Homo sapiens: one gene and its partners. The protein of the gene in region 2 purifies or fractionates together with the protein of the main gene of each other region. This does not show direct contact. Each region holds a gene or a part of one and is shown on either strand. Other genes may lie near its edges.

Region 1 (4,525 bases), on a different chromosome or scaffold from region 2:
GAACAGAGAAATTCTAAATATTACTAAGAGAAAAGGCTACACTTTTGCAAACGTAATTTAGTGATTCTGGATTATTCAGTCTTTGGAAGGATGTGATTTCTTATACAATAGTAAAGAAATTCAGTACTTTTGGGCAAAGTAAACAGTGAAGAAATTCAAATTCTTAAGTGCTCTGAGCCTCCTGTGCTTAAAAAAACAAAACAAACAAAAAACAAACAAAAAAAACTACTGTGGGACTATAAGAATAGAACTTATTCTTAATACTTGCATGTATTTTTTACCTTCCACACTAGTGGGCATTAAAATGCTGTATAAAATTCAAATACTTGGTGATCTGATCACTAAAGAAGCCCCACAGCTATTTTTTCTAAGAGTAAGTTGTTCCTGTTGCTTAAAAGTTCCTAAGAAAAAGGAACTGAGTAATAAGCTTGTGAAAAGTGATTTAAAGTTAGGCAGTTTCTCTGTTAAACAGCTTCCCAAATTCTTTAACATATTAATGTGTAGTGGGAATCTCCAAAAAGGAAATATAAAATGTTTCCCAAACTTACTACTATTTGGTCAACTTAATTTAACCCAACCTCCATATCCCAACTGTTTTTTTAGTACACCTATCTAGATTACAATATCTAAGTGTAGCTTGGAAGAAAACATTCACATTCTCAAATACAGAGTTGTATTTGAGGAGGGGAAGGACCGTTCATGGACTTTTTCAAATTGTGACACACTCTAAATCACTTGTGAAACTGACACTGATTAGTCACCTGAAGTAATTGAGGATTCTCTCGACCTATCTGCTGTAGTAACGCTGGAAGCAAGGAAGGATTCTGCTGAATAATTTGTCTCATCTGTTGAAACTGAGGCTGATTCCGTAAAAATTCAAGGGGATGTCCTAAAATACACATAAACATTTCTAAACAAAAGCAGTAAATACATACACAAACAGTGGTTAAATAATACATTTAGACAGCAAACACTATCAAAGAAAAAATGATTTGAGTTCTCAGATGTAATAAAATGAAGTAAATAATGATGAAATCTTCCAACTGTACCAACTTGCAAGTTTTATACGGCAAAAATTACTCCTATTAGCAAAGGCAGGGAGTGCAGAACGCTGACTGTAATATGAACCAAACTTTCCTATAATTGCCCTTGGCACTCAACGTTATAAAATAATACTAGAAACTTGTCTCCTGTGTGTGTTCTATCAAAATAAAAAGTACTAAAAGTTGTTCCTGTTGCTTAAAAGTTCCTAAGAAAAATATACACCACAACAAAAACAAAAACTCACTTACTTTATAAACAATGAAAACCCCTAAAAGAACACAATCTGAGCTTGAATTCCTAGGAATTCAAGAAACCAAAGAAGAAAAAGATATTTAAAGTCTGAGGTCAGGTTTTGCAAATCAGGAGAAACTTTAATCCAAACTTACATTAAGGAAGACTTCCGGTTATTACCATTAATTTTCAAACATTTGTGAACTACAAAAACTCGGATAAATAAGCTGTATGGCAATCTAGTACTAATATATCTAAACTCTTCAGTCTAAAATCCATTCACAATAATAAATGTTAATAATGCCAAATAAAATATAAAATACAGAACTTCTGGCTTTTTCAGGGTGCTGGTACTTGTCTGGTTATGCTATAGGAAACCAAAAATCGTACATACAGGAATTGTTTTTGAGGTTACTAATGAATAAAAGAGAATTTTTAGATGTATGTTGTAATTTCCTATTCAGGAAGACAATCATTCCAATTGAAATGACCACAGCACATGGGTTTTTTGTTCTTCCATATATAATACCAGCTTTACAGGTGAAGGCAACGAGACTTAGAGACTATGTCACCTAATAAGTGCTGAAAGGAACAGGACCCCAAATCCAAAGCAGAGCTGTGGTCATCTCTTTCCACTCCCATATGCTGAATCACAACAAACAAAGGGCCTGTCCTTGGGAGACTGTACACAAAGCACTGAGTGACCTTTGTCAACCAGAGGTGACTATCATTATCAGAGCTAGGAAATGCATGGAAGAATGGCCTTTTCAAGATCAACAGTTTAAATTACTTTATTAATATACAGAAGAACGAACGAAGGAGAACACTGCGTAATTCCTAAGCTGACCGCAGGTTCCAGGCTTTGCTCTGTAGTCAGACCTATAGCAATGTGTGGGGTATGGTCAGCACCCCAGTAAAGAGACTTCAATTCAAGCTTTGCTTTCTCCTCTAGATACAAGGTTTTAAACCTCTCACGGTTTCATTTCCTTGGCTGTATAATTACTAAAATCCTGCTGGCTTTGAAATTACATACACTTTGTAACATTTATGGAGAGAGTAAGAGACAAAGTGAGCAAACCATTCTGAATGGCATCAGAAAGTAACACTAAATACAAACTGGAAAGCATCTTTTCCTTAAAACAAATAAAACAGAATATGCCCTTCGGCAAAACTGCAACACTGATGTTTAATATCAGCAAGGATACCTTTTACATCCACTTGGGAAAGTTTCTTTTGGGCCTTTCTCAAACATTAGTGAAGAGAGAACTTAACGAATTATTCGACTGCTCTGGGAATGAACGTCATTTCTGAAGTATTTCAGGTTAAATTATTTTACACTAAAAATTCAGGGCCATTCCCTCCCCATCCAGAAGATTCCGCTTTACCTCCAGAACTTGTTGTTGTAGTTGTTGCTGTCGTAGTTGCTGCAGCTGCAGCCACTGCTGAAGACTGAGGAGCCCCAGTACTAGCTGCTTGAGGGGGGTCAACCACAGCCTGACTTTCTCTATCTCCAGGGATTCCCTGTAATAGAATTTCCAAGCTTTAAGATATCCCATCATGCAAAATTAAATATTATACAGAGTAAAAGATTTATAGTCTATTTAACATCTTGTTTGATTTTCAAAAGCATCAAACAGATGTCTGCTTCAATTAAAAGTAAAGGATTATTAAGCTGCATGGATTCAAATTAGATTAGAAATGACCTGGGTGCATTATAGAAAAACCCACATTGCTATAATAATGCAAAGCAGCACTGTCCAACAGAACTTACCATGATGATGGAAATATTCTCTGTGTTGTTCAATAAGACACCTACCAGGCACACGTAATTAGCATCAAATTTGAAAAATATTGATACATGTACCTTCTTAAAACTGAACACAACCAAAGGTTTTTGTGCTACCTATTAGTTCAGTTGACTTTTTAACTTCTTAGAAATCTTTATCAGCTGTTACTCAGTGATAAAAAGGATTGAGTTTGCAACTCTAGCTTAAGATAATCCAAAAAGAGGTTTTGATGCACACTTGACAGTTCTGAAATGACTCCTGGGGGAAAAAATATCTAATGGATACAGACCAGGTACACAGTGGCCAGGCAGGAGGATCTCCCCTACTGATCCATGGTACTGAGAAAGTGTCACTCAGAAAGTATCTCATAAATTTGAGGTACTTTTCAGTGAAGTGTTTCTTAAAGTGTCAAAGTATCTCATAAATGAGATACTTAAAGTATCTCATAAATGAGATACTTAAAGTATCTCAAAAAATGAGATAAAGTATCTCAAAAAATTTAATTTTTCAAAATTCATAAAATCGATATAAAAGAAATTGAAACCATTTAGTTTTTAGGTGATGCCTTTTGTAAGTTTATAGTACTTATCTTTTAAAGTTATTAAGAGCTTAAAACTGCATGCACTAAACTCTTTTGGGACACCTATTTTGATGCACATGATTGATAGACTTGTCATTTAAAATTTTTAAAAAGTCTTTATCAAGTTCTTATAGATTTTGAAGAGAATAAAGAACCAAGTATTACAATTGAATAAGATGATAAATGCTTCCATTCCCTAATAAACCAGAAGCCAAAAGCAACAACATATAAAGGATGAAGAGTAACACAGCAGGAAAATGGCTGCATGGATTAGATGTCACTCCAGGCATTAAAACCAATGTTTTTGAATGAGTTAACCAACGCAAACCCTTAACTCAGATGGGCAGTTATTTAAGTGCTAACAAACTACATACAAATTTAGGATCCAGGGCGTCCATCAAATTCTCTTTTATTAAACTAAAAAGTTCATCTTTATTGCTATAGATCGACCTCTATTCTCACACATTACATAGCCTCTTATATAAATGCTCAACATTTCTTCTTTCCATCCGTTCACCTTAACCTATCTCTTAACTAGTAACAGTTAAAAGCAACTTTTCCCCTTCAGTCTATGAAACAAAGAGCAAATATATAAAAAACATTTTAGTTATAAATTGTTTTTGATGAACTCATGTATCATCTATTTATTTGCATTTGATGCTCTACAGCAGTTTTAGCATTTGGTAACAATGATTCTGTATTTTTATACCTCAAAACTCCACATCTATTAGATCAAAATAACTGATACTGTTGAACTTATACAGAATTCTAAATCAGGTGTAAATGAAAGCCACTCCATAAAAGCTAATACTTTTATACAATCTGTTTAGGGTACACACTCCTCACCAAACAAATTCACAACAATTATTAATTCCACAATTCC
Region 2 (5,056 bases):
TCTAGCAAATTAGTTGAACCTAAGGAGGAGGCTGTGGGAACCCTGATTTACAGTCAGTCAGTTAGAAGCACAGGCAAAATAACCTGAGGCTTGTGATCAGCCTCTGAAGTGGGGCTCAGCTTTGTGAGACCGAGTCTTCTACCCGTGTGATATGACAGATAGTGTCAGAATTAAATTGAGTTAGAGGACACTTAGCTGGTGTCTGCTGCAGAATCGACTGCTTGCTTGGTGTTTGGTGAACCCCTCCACCCCATTTGGTCACAGAACCCTTTTTTTTGCCAAGGAGTGAAGGACATTCTGCCCCAAAATAGGCCAAATTGGTATATTGATTATTTTGAGGTGAAAACATTAGAGAAATTGTCATTTCAGAAGGGGATAGCTGACCTCTCTCTTCCTACATGCAGCAAGCCAAAAGATTTTCTCGGAGTTTTATCCTCCCTGTACCAGGACAGGAGAGTGGGAACTGGGGGCTGCAGTGGACCTGAGTGAATATGCTTACCTTCCACTAGTTTTACATTGTCCCACTATATATATATATAATGTATATATATAATACATATTTAATATATATTAAATATATATTACATATATTTAGTATATACGTAATATATATTAAATATATATAATATATATGTATATCTTCTAGTGACTCCCTTAGAAATTTACTGCCTCTAGTCAGATTTTCTTTATCCTGTCATTTGTTCTACAGTTTATCATTCTTTGTCTGAATTGTATAAAAGCATCTTGCTGTGGCCACTTCTTTGGACCTCACTCTCTTGTGAAGATTCCCATGTACATGTAAAACTAATAAAATGTATATGCTTCTCTCTTGTCAGTCTGTGTGGTGTCAGTTTGGTTTCTAGATCCAGCCAAGAGCCCACATAACTAAAAGGGCATTTGGAGGTAAACTTTCACTTTCCTTAGAGTTGATTGTTGCATGAGAGTACAGGAAAAATACTTTGGTTTGTTTATTCCTGTATTCACAAACCTTGAGCTCAAGAATGAGACTAGGATAGTCTTTATCACTACATGTGGGCATGTAGGAATTATCTTTTTCCCTCCTTTTTGTCCGGCCTACTAGGAAGCTCATCTAAGCTTCATATTCTATTCCTGTATGCTTCTCAAATTCATGTGGATTGTATTTTTTTTTGTCTATTTTTTTGACCTTGCGTTTGCCTATACTGATTTTTCTTTTTTAATAAACTCCCTCAACTCTTTTGAAGTAGGCTGGGATAACTAATTCAGTCAAGTACAATTCAGTTAGCCCTTACGTGACTTTGGAACAATCATTTGCTGATGTTATCCCATTGTTTCCTGATCCGTCAATGTGGATAAAAATTGTTCTCTCTCAGGTTCTTTTATCTTTTATGAAAATCAACTAAAAAGTCATAAAAATCTTTTTTTGAAGTTGAGTATTATCCTAATGATGGATACAATATGGGCCATCTCCATAGAGCTGTATATTTTTTCTGGTTTCAGATTTTAAAGATTTACACATAAATTTTAAATGATTTTTTAAAAGTCTTTTCTAGTATAACATGTTTGCTTTCTTTCTTTCTGTCTTTTTAGTTTCATAGCTTCTTTTTAAATAATTGCTCATTCCCATCAGGGCTCTTTCTGCTTTTCTTTTGCAGAATATGTGAGATCCAGGCTGTTGACTGTACTACAATATCCTCATTTACAGTGAGGGAATGTGAGGGATCCAGTAGGATGGGCTCAAGACCAAGGCGCTACTTGTTCACAGGCCATACAAATGGCAGTATTCAAATGTGGGATCTGACCACTGCTATGGATATGGTTAACAAAAGTGAAGATAAGGGTAGGTTCTCATACAGAAAGATGTTTGTCACAAGGTTAAGCTTTTCACTTAAGTGATTTTAATGACTATTTGTTCTCCTAAGATGTAGGTGGTCCAACCGAAGAAGAGCTACTCAAATTACTCGATCAATGTGATTTGAGCACATCTCGCTGTGCTACTCCTAACATCAGTCCAGCAACTTCCGTAGTTCAGCATAGCCACTTACGAGAATCAAATTCTAGGTAGGTTAAAGAGTTGGGTATTATAAACAAAATTTATTTCTTTTGGGGAAATTGACTGAAATATTGTAATCACATAGTTGTTCTAGAAAGCCATACTTCTCAAGGTACATTTTAAATTCAGACATTATGTTAACTTTTTAACAGTTTTACCAAATTTCTTGATAGGCATATCTGGTTCTTTTCATAGAAAAACATTTTTACCTTTTAACTTATTTTGTGAATTGCTGCCCAATTGGAAGCCTATTATGTGATCAAGAATTTATTCAAAGGAAATTAGGAAAATTACATGTCACCTTGGTTAGTATGTGAAGCTTTAATTATTGTCCTGTCTCAGGGACAATATTTATCTGTGGTTCTATTATGTTGTCTAGTCTTACATTTAAGCATTATGTAATTTTAATACAAAGTTCCATAATGTCTTTTTAGTTATCATATTGATAAATTCCAAAGTCTGAAGAACCAAGGGCTAAATACTGAATTATGATGGTTTCACATTGGTTTCAAGGATTTTTCCTCCCATCTTTTTTTTAGCTGTTCAAAAATTCAGCATGTCTGTGAATATATGATGGTATTATTTGCATTGGTAATTTTATATACCATCTATATAATAAAGAGTACTTGATAAGTATATTTTTACAAAGAGAAATATGGATATAATACACTTTATGTATTTATATAGTGTGTTTTATTGGTTGTATAATTAATATGTTCCTGAGAAATCACAGAGTGAAATCTGAACTGTCATTTTTAAAAACTGTATTTCAGCCTTCAGCTTCAGCACCATGATACCACCCATGAAGCAGCTACTTACGGTTCCATGAGGCCTTACAGAGAAAGTCCTTTATTAGCAAGGGCAAGAAGGACTGAGAGCTTTCACAGTTATAGGGACTTCCAGACTATTAATTTGAACAGAAATGTAGAAAGAGCTGTCCCTGAAAATGGTAACTTGGGTCCAATACAAGCTGAAGTGAAAGGGGCAACAGGGGAATGTAATATATCTGAGAGAAAGTCTCCTGGAGTAGAAATAAAAAGTTTGAGAGAATTGGATAGTGGATTGGAAGTGCATAAAATAGCTGAAGGTTTTTCAGAATCCAAGAAAAGGTCATCAGAAGATGAAAATGAAAATAAAATAGAGTTTAGGAAGAAAGGAGGATTTGAAGGGGGAGGATTCCTTGGAAGAAAGAAAGTTCCCTATCTGGCGTCATCACCAAGTACTTCCGATGGAGGAACTGACTCACCTGGTACTGCGTCCCCATCTCCTACAAAGACTACTCCATCTCCTCGGCATAAAAAAAGTGATTCTTCAGGTCAGGAGTACAGCTTGTGAAAACTCACCAAAATGAATAGTTGTTTCGTTACATTTAGATGAAAGTTAAACTTTACTGAATTTCAGTACATTAGTTTTTACACTAAAACTTTACAAGATAAAATTGGACTTCATTTAGTATCTTTTTAACAGAATTACTTGGAATAATGAGATACAATAATCATATCTCTTTTGACATTTTGGAAATTTTTTTAATTTTACAAGTACATTTAACAGATCATTTATAAAGCAGGAGTCCATTTTAACACTTACCGACTTTTTTTGGTTTGGAAACATATTACCACGTCTTAATAGGATGGTGCCCATATAGGTGAGCATCCCTTTAGATCATGGGAACCAGCAGACTGCATTCCTAATCTTCATTATGCCTGAGACTTGTCTTACAATGTTACCTTTAAGTGAATCACATAATTGTCTTTGGAACTTGGTCTCCCAACACTTATTGTGATTGCAAAGTGTTTACCAGATATTTGATGAGGTGCTATGTTTGTGAAAAACATATCATGTAATTCAAAAACACTATTGATATTGAATACCAGATACCACTATGTAGTAAGTCTTTTAGGATGATTTTAATTTAGTCGTGCGTCATTTTCTGATTCTCATCATTGGGAGATCTTAAATCTTAGCAAGCATTAGCAATATTAAATGCCAAAATTCCATTGAAACTTTCAAGTTGGAGCAATTGTCTGTGTTTGAAAAGATGAAATAAAAATAATAATCAAGGGCAAAGCTTTGAGTGCCCAGAAGGGAAAGCTGTACCAGTTGCTAACCTGTCTTGTTTCAGGAGCCACCATGTTTTTTTTTCAGTGTTAACAACAATCATGATAATTAAATTAAAACACTAGTTTGTTCACTTGTAGGACTGCAGTTCTGAATTTTGGGTTAAAGGTTTTGGCTGCTGTAAGAATGTGAATTTGAATGTATTTTGAATTGTAAGAGCAAAAGAACGTTTTTGTACAATTTTTTTTCATTTAATTGGAATGATCTTCAGGTTTCTACAAATAGGGTAATTGTAAATTTAAAGCATTAGCATTTATTGGTGAATAATGTATATATCCCCATTCCAAGAAATATAAGTGAGTGAAGTTGAAATAAAATCTTTAAAATTTACTATATTGCCAGTGGTTTCACAACAGTTCTCTTGTATTTATTTATCAATTAAATCAAATAAAAATGATTATGTCAATGCGTTTTCAGTTATTTAAGTAACAGTTCTGTTTAAAGTGTGCTATATATGTTTGTTCATTTCTTTGCTTCTTCCCATAATTTAAAAAAAATGGGGGGAGGGAGAACTTAATATATGTGGAAAATAAGTTATTATCAATGAAAGAAAATATTAGGCAAAGCATAATTTCAAAATTACTAAGATTGTAATTATCTTACACCCTTCTTCCTCTTTATGACAGTTATGTGAAAGTTGGGTGGGCAAGTAAGAAAATGAAAGAAAAAACTAGACTCTAGTGACCAGGAATAAAAGGCCATTAAAAAGAAGATAGTAACTATTATGTAATAGAATCGCATAAAAAGGAAACTGACTATACTAGATTGCATTACAGTACAAGTCAAATCGTTTCTTTCTTTTGCTTACAGGAGATTGAACCTTGATGCAGTGGTTTATGTCTGTCTACTCTGACACTAATTTCTCAGATTGCCCCCATTATGCCTTAATTTTTTCATTATACCTAC
Region 3 (4,525 bases), on a different chromosome or scaffold from region 2:
GTTGTTTTCACTCCTTAGCTATTAAGAATAATGCTGTGCCTGGCCAGGCATGGTGGCTCACGCCTGTAATCCCAGCACTTTGGGAGGCCGAGGCGGGCAGATCACGAGGTCAAGAGATCGAGACCATCCCGGCCAACATGGTGAAACCCCCTCTCTACTAAAAATACAAAAATTAGCTGGGCATGGTGGTGGGCGCCTGTAGTCCCAGCTACTTGGGAGGCTGAGGCAGTAGAATCCCTTGAACCTGGGAGGCGGAGTTTGCAGTGAGCCGAGATCGCGCCACTGCTTTCCAGCCTGGCGACAGAGTGAGACTCCATCTCAAAACAACAAACAAACAAAAAACAAGAATAATGTTGTGCCTGTAATCCCAGCACTTTGGGAGGCTGAGGCGGGTGGATCACCTGAGATCATGAGTTCGAGACCAGCCTGGACAACATGGCAAAACCCTATCTCCACGGAAAATACAAAAATTAGCCGAGCATGGTGGCTCACGCCTGTAGTCCCAGCTACCCGGGAGGCCGAGGCATGAGAATCGCTTGAACCTGGGAGGCAGAGGTTGAGGTGAGCTGAAATCCTGCCACTGTACTCCAGCCTGGGTGACAGAGCGAAACTCCATCTCAGAAAAAGAGGAATAATACTGCTATGTACATTCCTGTACATGTTTCTGGTGTGGACACATGTTTTCAGATCTCTTGGATTGCTGGTTTTATAGTAGCTCTATGGAGGAACTACCAAGTTGAAGATACATATTTTTGCTGTTTTAATACCTGTATTAGCTTAGTCTCAGATACCAGAACTGGCTCAGTGGCAGGTGTCTTTTTTTTTTTTTTTTTAAAGAGTCTTACTTTGTCACCCAGGCTGGAGTGCAGTGGTGTGATCTCAGTTCACTGTAACCTCCTCCTCCCTGGGTTCAAGCGATTCCCGTGCCTCAGCCTCCCAAGTAGCTGGAATTATAGGTGCATGCCACCAAGCCTGGCTAATTTTTGTATTTTTAGTAGAGAAAGGGTTTTGCCATGTTGGCCAGGCTGGTCTCGAACTCCTGACCTCAGGCGATCCACTCGACTTGGCCTCCCAAAGTGTTGAGATCACAGGTGTGAGGTCAGGTTGTGTTTTTTTTTTTTTTTTTTTTGAGAGGGAGTCTTACTCTTATTGCCCAGGCTGGAGTGCAGTGGCGTGATCTCGGCTCACTGCAACCCCCATCTCCTGGGTTCAAGCGATTCTCCTGCCTCAGCCTCCTGAGTAGCTGGGATCACAGGCATGCGCCACCACGCCTGGCTAATTTTTTGTATTTTTATTAGAGACCGGGTTTCTCCATGTTGGTCAGGCTGGTCTCCAACTCCTGACCTCAAGTGATCTGCCTGCCTCCGCCTCCCAAAGTGCTGGGATTACAGGTGTGAGCCACCACACCCGGCTGATTATGCTGCTTTTTAGATGAGACGATAGTTTTTATTTTTAAATCATTTTTATTTATTAATTTTTTTGAGATGGAGTCTCGCTCTGTTACCCAGGCTGGAGTGCAGTGTTGTGATCTTGGCTCACTGCCTCCTCCACCTCCTGAGTTCAAGCAATTCTCCTGCCTCAGCCTCTGGAGTAGCTGGGACTGCGGGTGTGTGCTACCACTCCTGGCTAATTTTTGTATTTTTAATAGAGATGGGGTTTTGTCATGTTGACCAGGCTGGTCTCTAACTGCTGACCTCAAGTGATCCTCCCGCCTCTGTCTCCCAAAGTGTTGGGATTACAGGTGTGAGCCACCGTGTCTGGCCGAGATGATACTTCTAAAATAAGGCCCTTTGTTACCTGCGGTGGGCCGCGCTCTCCTCCTCTGTAGAATGAAGGCTTCGGTGTTTCTCAGCTTCTGTTAAACCTGTGCCTACTTTTGAGAAACATGAGCGCTCCAGTCTCCCCCGCTCAGTATTTTGATATGTCCTCCGAGGGGTTTTATGCCTCTTTGTTGGAAGGTGATGTGATTTTGGTTCTTTCGAAGGTGGTTTTTGTGTGCAGAAAAGACTCTTTAGGGAATCGTTGTGGGGAAAGGGCAGGAGAGAGTGGGGCGTCGTCCTTGAGAGCGTGAGCACTGGAGTCAGGGACTTGGGCTGAGTCACACACATGTAATATACTTGTGAACCGTTTAGATCCTGGGCAGAAGCAAGACATGTTGGGAGGCTAGGGTTTCCTTTTTTTAAAATTTAATTTTGTTCATACTTCTCTATCCATGTGTATTTTTGAAGTCTGTAGAGGTGGGGTTGTGATGTCCAGGATAGCCCCCGACACACAGTCCTCCTCCTCTCCGTGCAGGTGAGAAGCTTGCCATTAGAATTTCACAGAGGTCTTATAGCAATGTCACTTTAATCTTAGTGTCACCTGGGAGGGTTTTACTGCCACGATCTCTGCAGTCAGGCTTTGGTGACCTGAAGGTTATGCAGTTTTGGGCTTCCTATTTAAGAAAAAGAAAACAAAATTAAAAATGCAAAATTAGATAGAGGGCCATGGAAGGGGCCTGAAGCTGAACCCCATTAGCTCATGGTACAGCTGCCTCTGGCCATGGGGACCATGGCCAAATCCCCTCAGGAAGTGTCAGCCCACTGATGGGGACAGTGGAGGTGTGTATCGAGGCATCTTTTTCTTATTTGATACAGAGAGCTCATTTAATCTCCCTAACCTTTAAAAAAATTAGACTTTTTATTTGAGACTATAGTAGTTGTAGCTCCATGTGCATTTGTCAGAAATAATACTGAGGGATCCTATATACCTTTTGCCCAGTTTCCCCCCGTGGTGCCATGTTACAAAACCACAGTATGTTATCACAACCAGAATGTTGACTTGCTGACACCTTGAGGTATGTGTTACTATCCTCATTTTTATTCACAATGAAACTAGGGTTCAGGGAAGCACACAGGCTTGCTCCAGGTCACCCAGATCGTGCGTGTAGAGCTGGGAGTTGAATATCGGCCCTGACTTCCAGGCAGTGGGATTTCCATCATGACCGTCTGTAGGCTGGGGGCAGCATTCATTGGATTGTTCATTTGTTTGTTTGTTCACTAATCCCTTCAACAAACATGTATTGAGGATCTCCTATGAGCCAGATTCTTTCACGTGGGTCATCTAATTTAATTTTTCCCCAGCTCTGGGGAATCAGGTAATAACGTTTTCTTTTTATATCTGACAAAATTGGCTCAGAGAGGTTATGGCAACTCTCCCATTTATAAAGGAAAGGTGGTATATTTGTGTAATCTCTCCTTTTATGTTAGGCACAATGCTAGGCCCTTTACATTCGCAACCTCCTCAATCTAGATACAGTTTTATAAGGCAAGTTCTTTTTCTTTTAATTCTTTTTTTTTTTTTTTTTTTTTGAGATGCAGTCTGGCTCTGTCGCCCAGGCTGGAGTGCAGTGGCGCCATCTGGGCTCACTGCAAGCTCTGCCTCCCTGGTTCATGCCATTCTCCTGCCTCAGCCTCCCAAGTAGCTGGGACTACAGGTGCCTGCCACCACGCCGGGCTAATTTTTTGTATTTTTAGTAAAGATGGGGTTTCACCATGTTAGCCAGGATGATCTCGATCTTCTGACCTTGTGATCTGCCTGCCTCAGCTTCCCAAAGTGCTGGGATTACAGGTGTGAGCCACTGCGCCCCGCCTCTTTTTTTTTTTTTTTTGAGACGGAGTCTCACTCTGTCACCCAGGCTGGAGTGCAGTGGCGCAATCTTGGCTCACTGCAGCTTTCACCTCCCGGGTTCCAGTGATTTTCCTGCCTCAGCCTCCTGGGTAACTGGGATTACAGGCACGTGCCACCACACCCGGCTAATTTTTGTATTTTTAGTATAGGTGGGGTTTCACCATGTTGGCCAGGCTGGTCTCGAATTCCTGACCTCAAGTGATCCGCCAGCTTCGGCCTTCCAAAGTGTTAGGATTACAGGCATGAGCCACCATGCCCGGCCAAGACAAGTTCTATTATCACCACTATTTTGTAGCTGAGGAGTTCCAGGGAGCCCGGAATTCAAATCCAGATGTGATTGCATGGTGGATTTTTCTTAATATCCTGTTGAGGGGATGGGGGAGCAATTACACACGTGTTTATTCATTCACTCAACAGACATTTTTGAGCACTGACTCTTACTACTCCTGGTTAGGTGGTGAGAATAGAAAGACAAGAAACAGCCCCATTTCTGTAGAAGCTCCATGCTGAGGCCAAGGGACTGAAGGTCAACAGTTACAGCATTATGATCAGAGCTGCGACAGCCACGTGTAGAGCCCTAAGACCTGTTGATGCCACGGCTTTCCTTGGGGCTTCCCCTGCCTCTGGGTAGTGAAGGTCACAGTCACTGCCTCCCAGGGTAGGCTCTCAGCACTCAGGACTCTGTGTCTCACAGCCTCATTTCTTCTCTCTGAACAGGGACTTCAAAATGAGCGTCCCTGACTACATGCAGTGTGCTGAGGACCACCAGACGCTGCTCGTGGTGGTCCAGCCTGTGGGCATCGTCTCCGAGGAGAACTTCTTCAGGATCTATAAGAGGATTTGCTCTGTGAGTCAG
Region 4 (4,971 bases), on a different chromosome or scaffold from region 2:
AATGTAAAGAAAAATGCTAGGCGCGGTGGCTCACGCCTGCAATCCCAGCATTTTGGGAAGCCGAGACAGGTGGATCACCTGTGATCAGCAGTTTGAGACCAGCCTGACCAACATGGTGAAACCTCGTCTCTACAAAAAATACAAAAAATTAGCCTGCGTGGTGGCGTGTACCTGTAATCCCAGCTACTCAGGAGGCTGAGGCAGGAGAATAGCTTGAACCCAGGAGGCAGAGATTGCAGTGAGCCGAGATTGCACCACTGCACTCCAGCCTGGGCGACAGAGCGCGACTCTGTCTTAAAAAAAAAAAAAAAAACTAGCCGGGCATGGTGGCGCAAGCCTGTAATCCCAGTTACTCGGGAGGCTGAGGCACAAGAATCACTTGAACTCAAGAGGCAGAGTTTGCAGTGAGCTGAGATCAGGCCACTGCACTCCAGCCTGGGTAACAGAGCAAGACTCCGTCTCAAAAACAAACCAACAACAAAAAAAAAGCATGGTAAATAACACAAAATACAACAGAAAAAAAAATCCAATTATAATTAATAAAAATAGCTAAATTCTAGCTAACAGAGATATATTTTCAGAATACATTTTCTAAAAAGTCCAGTTATAGGCTATGTCTGAGAGACAGGTGAAAAACATAATGGAATATTATCATATAAATGAATTGACACAAATATATCTCGAAAACATAATGGAGAATGAAAAAAGATGCAAAATGATTATTCAGTATGGTGTCATTTTTGTAAAGTTTAAAAACAAAATTAGGTATTCCATATAGCATTGCTGGATCTCTACATCATATGTAATAAAAGTATAAAAACACAAACTGGAATGATATGTACCAACTTGAGCACGGTGACTATCTGTGGGGCGGAAGAAGAAATGAGAGTGGGGCCGTCGTTATGACTAATTTTGTATGTCTTTAATAAATCCCAAGTACATGCAGCAAAATGTATTGATGTCTGTTTAATCTTGATAGTGGGGGGCGTGGGTAGTATTAATATTATTTTCCGTACTCTTCCGTAGGCCTCTAATATTTCCCTCTTTACAGAACACTGACACACGCTCAGGGCTCCCCGGGACATCTTTGTGCACATCAACATTTATGCTGAGAGTAGCTTCTGGACTCCAAAGAGGAAACTCCCCGGGCACTGTGGCCCACGCCTGTTATCCCAGCACTTTGGGAGGCTGAGGTGGGCAGATCGCTTGAGCCCAGGCGTTCGAGACCAGCCTGGGCAAAATAGCGAGACCCACCCCCGCCCCCCATTGCTACAAAAACATTTACAAACTAGCCGGGCGTGGTGACCCCCGCCTGTGGTCCCAGCTGGTCGGGAGGCTGAGGTGGGAGGATCTTTTGAGCCCGGGAGGTCAAGGCCGCGGTGAGTCGAGATCGCACCACTACACTCCAGACCGGGCGACAGAGAAAGACATCCATTCACTCCCCCAAAAGAAGGGGAAATTCGCTGAGGCTGAGCGCTGGTTTCCCAAGGTGGGGCTGGCACCTGCTGAAGCTGCCACAGGAGTGGAGAGGCCGTAGGGAGACTTGGAAAGAACCTGGAAAGGGGGCCGGGGCTATGGAGCCAAGGCTGCAGCAGGGCTGGATGGTGTTTGTAGTTTGTGCAGAATAGGAGGCAGTTTTTAAAGCCGAGATACAGCTCTGGTTGACTGGAGCGGGGAGGGGTGGGTGTGAGAGGTCAGGAAACCAGCGGCTGGAGGCCGGGGGCCTGGAGCGGCAGGGCTGGCGGGCAGACGTTAGGCCCCAGGCAAAATGGGCGCACCCCCTGCGGGGGCCCGAGGTGACCTGCTCGAGGTCCGGTCGCCCAGGTTCCACCTGGAGAAGAAAATCTTCGTAATTTGGCTGGGGGAGGGGGGATGCGGGCACAGGCTGTGTTCTCCACGTCGCGTAGACGCAGAGGCCATCCCTGGGTCGGAGAGTCTCCGTGGAGTGGCACCCCAGCGTTCCCCGTACGCCGGGGCCACTTTGTCGGGCTGACGGGGGTCCCTCCAGGTGGCCGCCGGCGGCGGGTCCCGAGCCAGACCGGGAAGCGGGGAGCAGCCCTCAGCCCGCGAGCGTGGGGCCGGGGCAGACTGGAGGCCGGGCGGGCCCCGCCGAGGGTGGGGCGGGGCCGGGCGCACGGGGGCGGACCTCGGCGCGCTCCCGGCCGCTCGCTGGCTCCGGGGCCGCGGCGGCTCCTCTGCCGGGTCGCGCCGGACGACTGGCTTCGGGCGGCGGCCCCGGCGGCCTGTGGACGGACGGGTGGGCCGAGGTACAGGCCCCACGGCCGCCGTCTCCCGCTTCTGCCCGCGCAGAGTCCGCGCCATGGCCGCCTCGCCGGGCTCGGGCAGCGCCAACCCGCGGAAGTTCAGTGAGAAGATCGCGCTGCACACGCAGAGACAGGCCGAGGAGACGCGGGCCTTCGAGCAGCTCATGACCGACCTCACCCTGTCGCGGGTGAGGGCCCGGGCCGGCGCGGGCGGGGGCGGCCACGGCCGCGGGCGGGACCCGCGCGGCGGGTGAGAGGTTGCGGGGCCAAGGCGATGGCGGGGCCGGGCGGGGGCCGCGCCCGGGAACCGGCGGCTGGGAGGGGGACCGGAGCGGCCGCGGCCTCGGCGTTTCCCCGCCTGGCGACACCCGCTAGCCGTTCGCGATCCCGGGCTGAGGTGGGAGGGTCGCCCGGCCCCGTGTGCGGGAAGATGGGCAGGGGTGAAGCCCGTGGAGGCGGGCGGCCGTGCGAGGGCGGCCTGAGGGGGAGGAGGACGAGGAGCCCCGAGAGGAAATCGCAAACAGCTCGGAGGCCGGCCGGGTGGCGCGGCGCGGCTTCTGGTCGCTCCGAACATCCCCCACCATCGAGCCCTGCTGTTCTGCCGGCGTGGAAGGCCGCGGGCACCCCAGGGTCCCACGCGCTCGTGGGGGGAGCTCTGTGCACAAGTCCATCCAGGGCCCGGCCCTGGGGTGGCTCGGGTTGTTGGAACCACGACGGGATTCCGTGTCGAGTGTGAGGCTCTGCTCCTTTTACTCCTTGGAGGTGCTTTATCGGGTCCAGTTTACTTTGTTCGGCCCGGGATATTTAGTGAGAACTGACAAGCGTCGCTGGTGACTGGAGAGGGACCTGGAGGAATGAGTAAGGCGCGAGCCGGGACAAACACCTGGAGAGGTTAGGTAACCGCTGAGTGAGGCAGTGGAGGATGGAGAGCCAACCGGAGTGTCCGCGCAGGGTTGCAGAGAAGGGGGGTCAGCAGGAGTGGGGCTGGCCTTGAGGATCCTGAATGCTGACCTTGGAGGACCATCGGGAGGATGGGGGAGGATCTGCAGATTCTGGGGGACTGAGGCGGGGGAGACAGTTTGAAGGAGAGCTGAGAGCAGAGTTGCAAACCAGCTGAGTTGCAGACACATTATTTTTTGGCCAGCGCAGTGTTTGGGAAAAATTATTGAATCTGTTGCCAGAATTTTTAAATTGGAAGACTTCCACACAAAATCCAAATTTCCGTATTATTTATTTATTATTATTTATATATGTTAAAAATTGGGAGACCTGGTAACACTAATTCTGAATTCCTACATGACAGCTACCGACCTGCTGGAGCTGGGTGATGATGAAAGGGAGCTGAGCTGAGCTCCCTTTCAAATGGAGTAAGAACTCTAGTTTGCCACCGTCCACTCTCTGTCACAGTCCCCCAAGGGGAGATTAGGTGACAGTTGCCATTTATACTCATGATGGTGTTTTCTTTCAGTGAAGTTAAGGAAAAAGTGAAATATTTCCTGTACTTACATTTCTGTTCACATTGAGAAAAAATATATATATAGAGAGAAAGAAGCTGAAGATTTCAAGAAAATGTTTTCTTATACCCTATCAGCTTCACTCATTTTTTACCTGCCTGGCATCCACTGGCATTTACATCTGTGACCTTGGTTAGATTCAGAGATGAACTCGATAAGCTCAGAGCACGTTGAAAAGAATGGGTGGGTGAAAGCTGAGGATTAGTGTTGGGGCCTGTGTTGTTATGTGTTTTTAAATACATACTGTACATTGTTTATGTACAAATACATGCACTGTATATGTCTGTATACCTATGGCGGATCCAATCTTTCACCCAATTCATGAATCTTCTTTAAAATATCCCTGACAGGTGAGGCCATGAGTAATGTACAGACTCTCTTTTAAAAGCAAAAATTTTTCACAGATCCTCACTGTTTACTTACTTTCAAGTAAAAAAAAAGTGTTTACTTACTTTAGAGACCCTGCTATAGCTCAGGGTCTCTTGAATTTAGCAAGCCTAATCAACTGTGGCCCATATGATAATTCAGTCACCACTTTATTCTAATTACTACAAAATTATGGTGTCATTTTGCCCTTCACCTGGTACAGGGAATCATTTACATATTAATTCTGCCCGTGTTTTCTTCTTGGCCAGTTACCAGTAAAGTAACACTGCTTGGCTCCACCGTGTTCATAAACACATCTGTAAATGATAACACTGAATTTGGCTACTAATGTTTGCTTATTTAAAAATCTTAAGGGTTATTTTCATGAAGAAATCACAAAATTAGAACACTTCTCATAGAGAACTCTTAGATTCCCAGCATGTCTATGAAGAATGCGTCTCTAAGGATCCAAAGATCCCAGTTGGAGGAGTATCTGCCTAGTTCATAATTGGTAACTGGGTGGCAGATATACTGACTTTTCATTACTAGCCCATGACAGACATGCTAATTCCTGACTTTTCATTACTAGCCCATGACAGACATGCTAATCGATAGGGCAGACATTACTGATCTATCTAGATGCTCTTTCCCCTCTGAGCCTGTGTTGGGATTCAAGTTCTTCTCTACATGATCAAAGCAATCCTTCAGAGTTGGCCTTACTTACCTATTCACCTAGGCGTTACTTATCCTATTCACCTAGTGGGTAGGATAGACTAGACTGTAGAGGATTTTCTCTAGCTTTAGAAGTCCGGCATTATCAGGAAGCA

What was found. The genes of interacting proteins can lie anywhere in the genome.
Region 1: the proteins of KCTD3 (region 2) and RAD23B purify together in Homo sapiens (affinity purification with mass spectrometry; 2 studies listed by BioGRID and IntAct, with this or other methods). This does not show direct contact.
Region 3: the proteins of KCTD3 (region 2) and TRAPPC9 purify together in Homo sapiens (affinity purification with mass spectrometry; 2 studies listed by BioGRID and IntAct, with this or other methods). This does not show direct contact.
Region 4: the proteins of KCTD3 (region 2) and CRTC3 purify together in Homo sapiens (affinity purification with mass spectrometry, with the first as the bait; one large-scale study listed by BioGRID). This does not show direct contact.

What each region holds. Positions count from the first base shown.
Region 1 is NC_000009.12:107,320,254-107,324,778, reverse strand, and holds part of RAD23B (UV excision repair protein RAD23 homolog B), read right to left. Parts: intron 2,797-4,525; coding exon 2,661-2,796; intron 890-2,660; coding exon 762-889; intron 1-761. UniProt on the Homo sapiens protein: Multiubiquitin chain receptor involved in modulation of proteasomal degradation. Binds to polyubiquitin chains.
Region 2 is NC_000001.11:215,617,252-215,622,307, forward strand, and holds the end of KCTD3 (BTB/POZ domain-containing protein KCTD3), read left to right. Parts: intron 1-1,634; coding exon 1,635-1,819; intron 1,820-1,901; coding exon 1,902-2,040; intron 2,041-2,805; coding exon 2,806-3,367; 3' UTR 3,368-4,556; downstream 4,557-5,056. UniProt on the Homo sapiens protein: Accessory subunit of potassium/sodium hyperpolarization-activated cyclic nucleotide-gated channel 3 (HCN3) up-regulating its cell-surface expression and current density without affecting its voltage dependence and kinetics.
Region 3 is NC_000008.11:140,451,245-140,455,769, reverse strand, and holds part of TRAPPC9 (trafficking protein particle complex subunit 9), read left to right. Parts: intron 1-4,386; coding exon of another isoform or gene 4,387-4,396; coding exon 4,397-4,525. UniProt on the Homo sapiens protein: Functions as an activator of NF-kappa-B through increased phosphorylation of the IKK complex. May function in neuronal cells differentiation. May play a role in vesicular transport from endoplasmic reticulum to Golgi.
Region 4 is NC_000015.10:90,527,752-90,532,722, forward strand, and holds the start of CRTC3 (CREB-regulated transcription coactivator 3), read left to right. Parts: upstream 1-2,171; 5' UTR 2,172-2,320; coding exon 2,321-2,452; intron 2,453-4,971. UniProt on the Homo sapiens protein: Transcriptional coactivator for CREB1 which activates transcription through both consensus and variant cAMP response element (CRE) sites.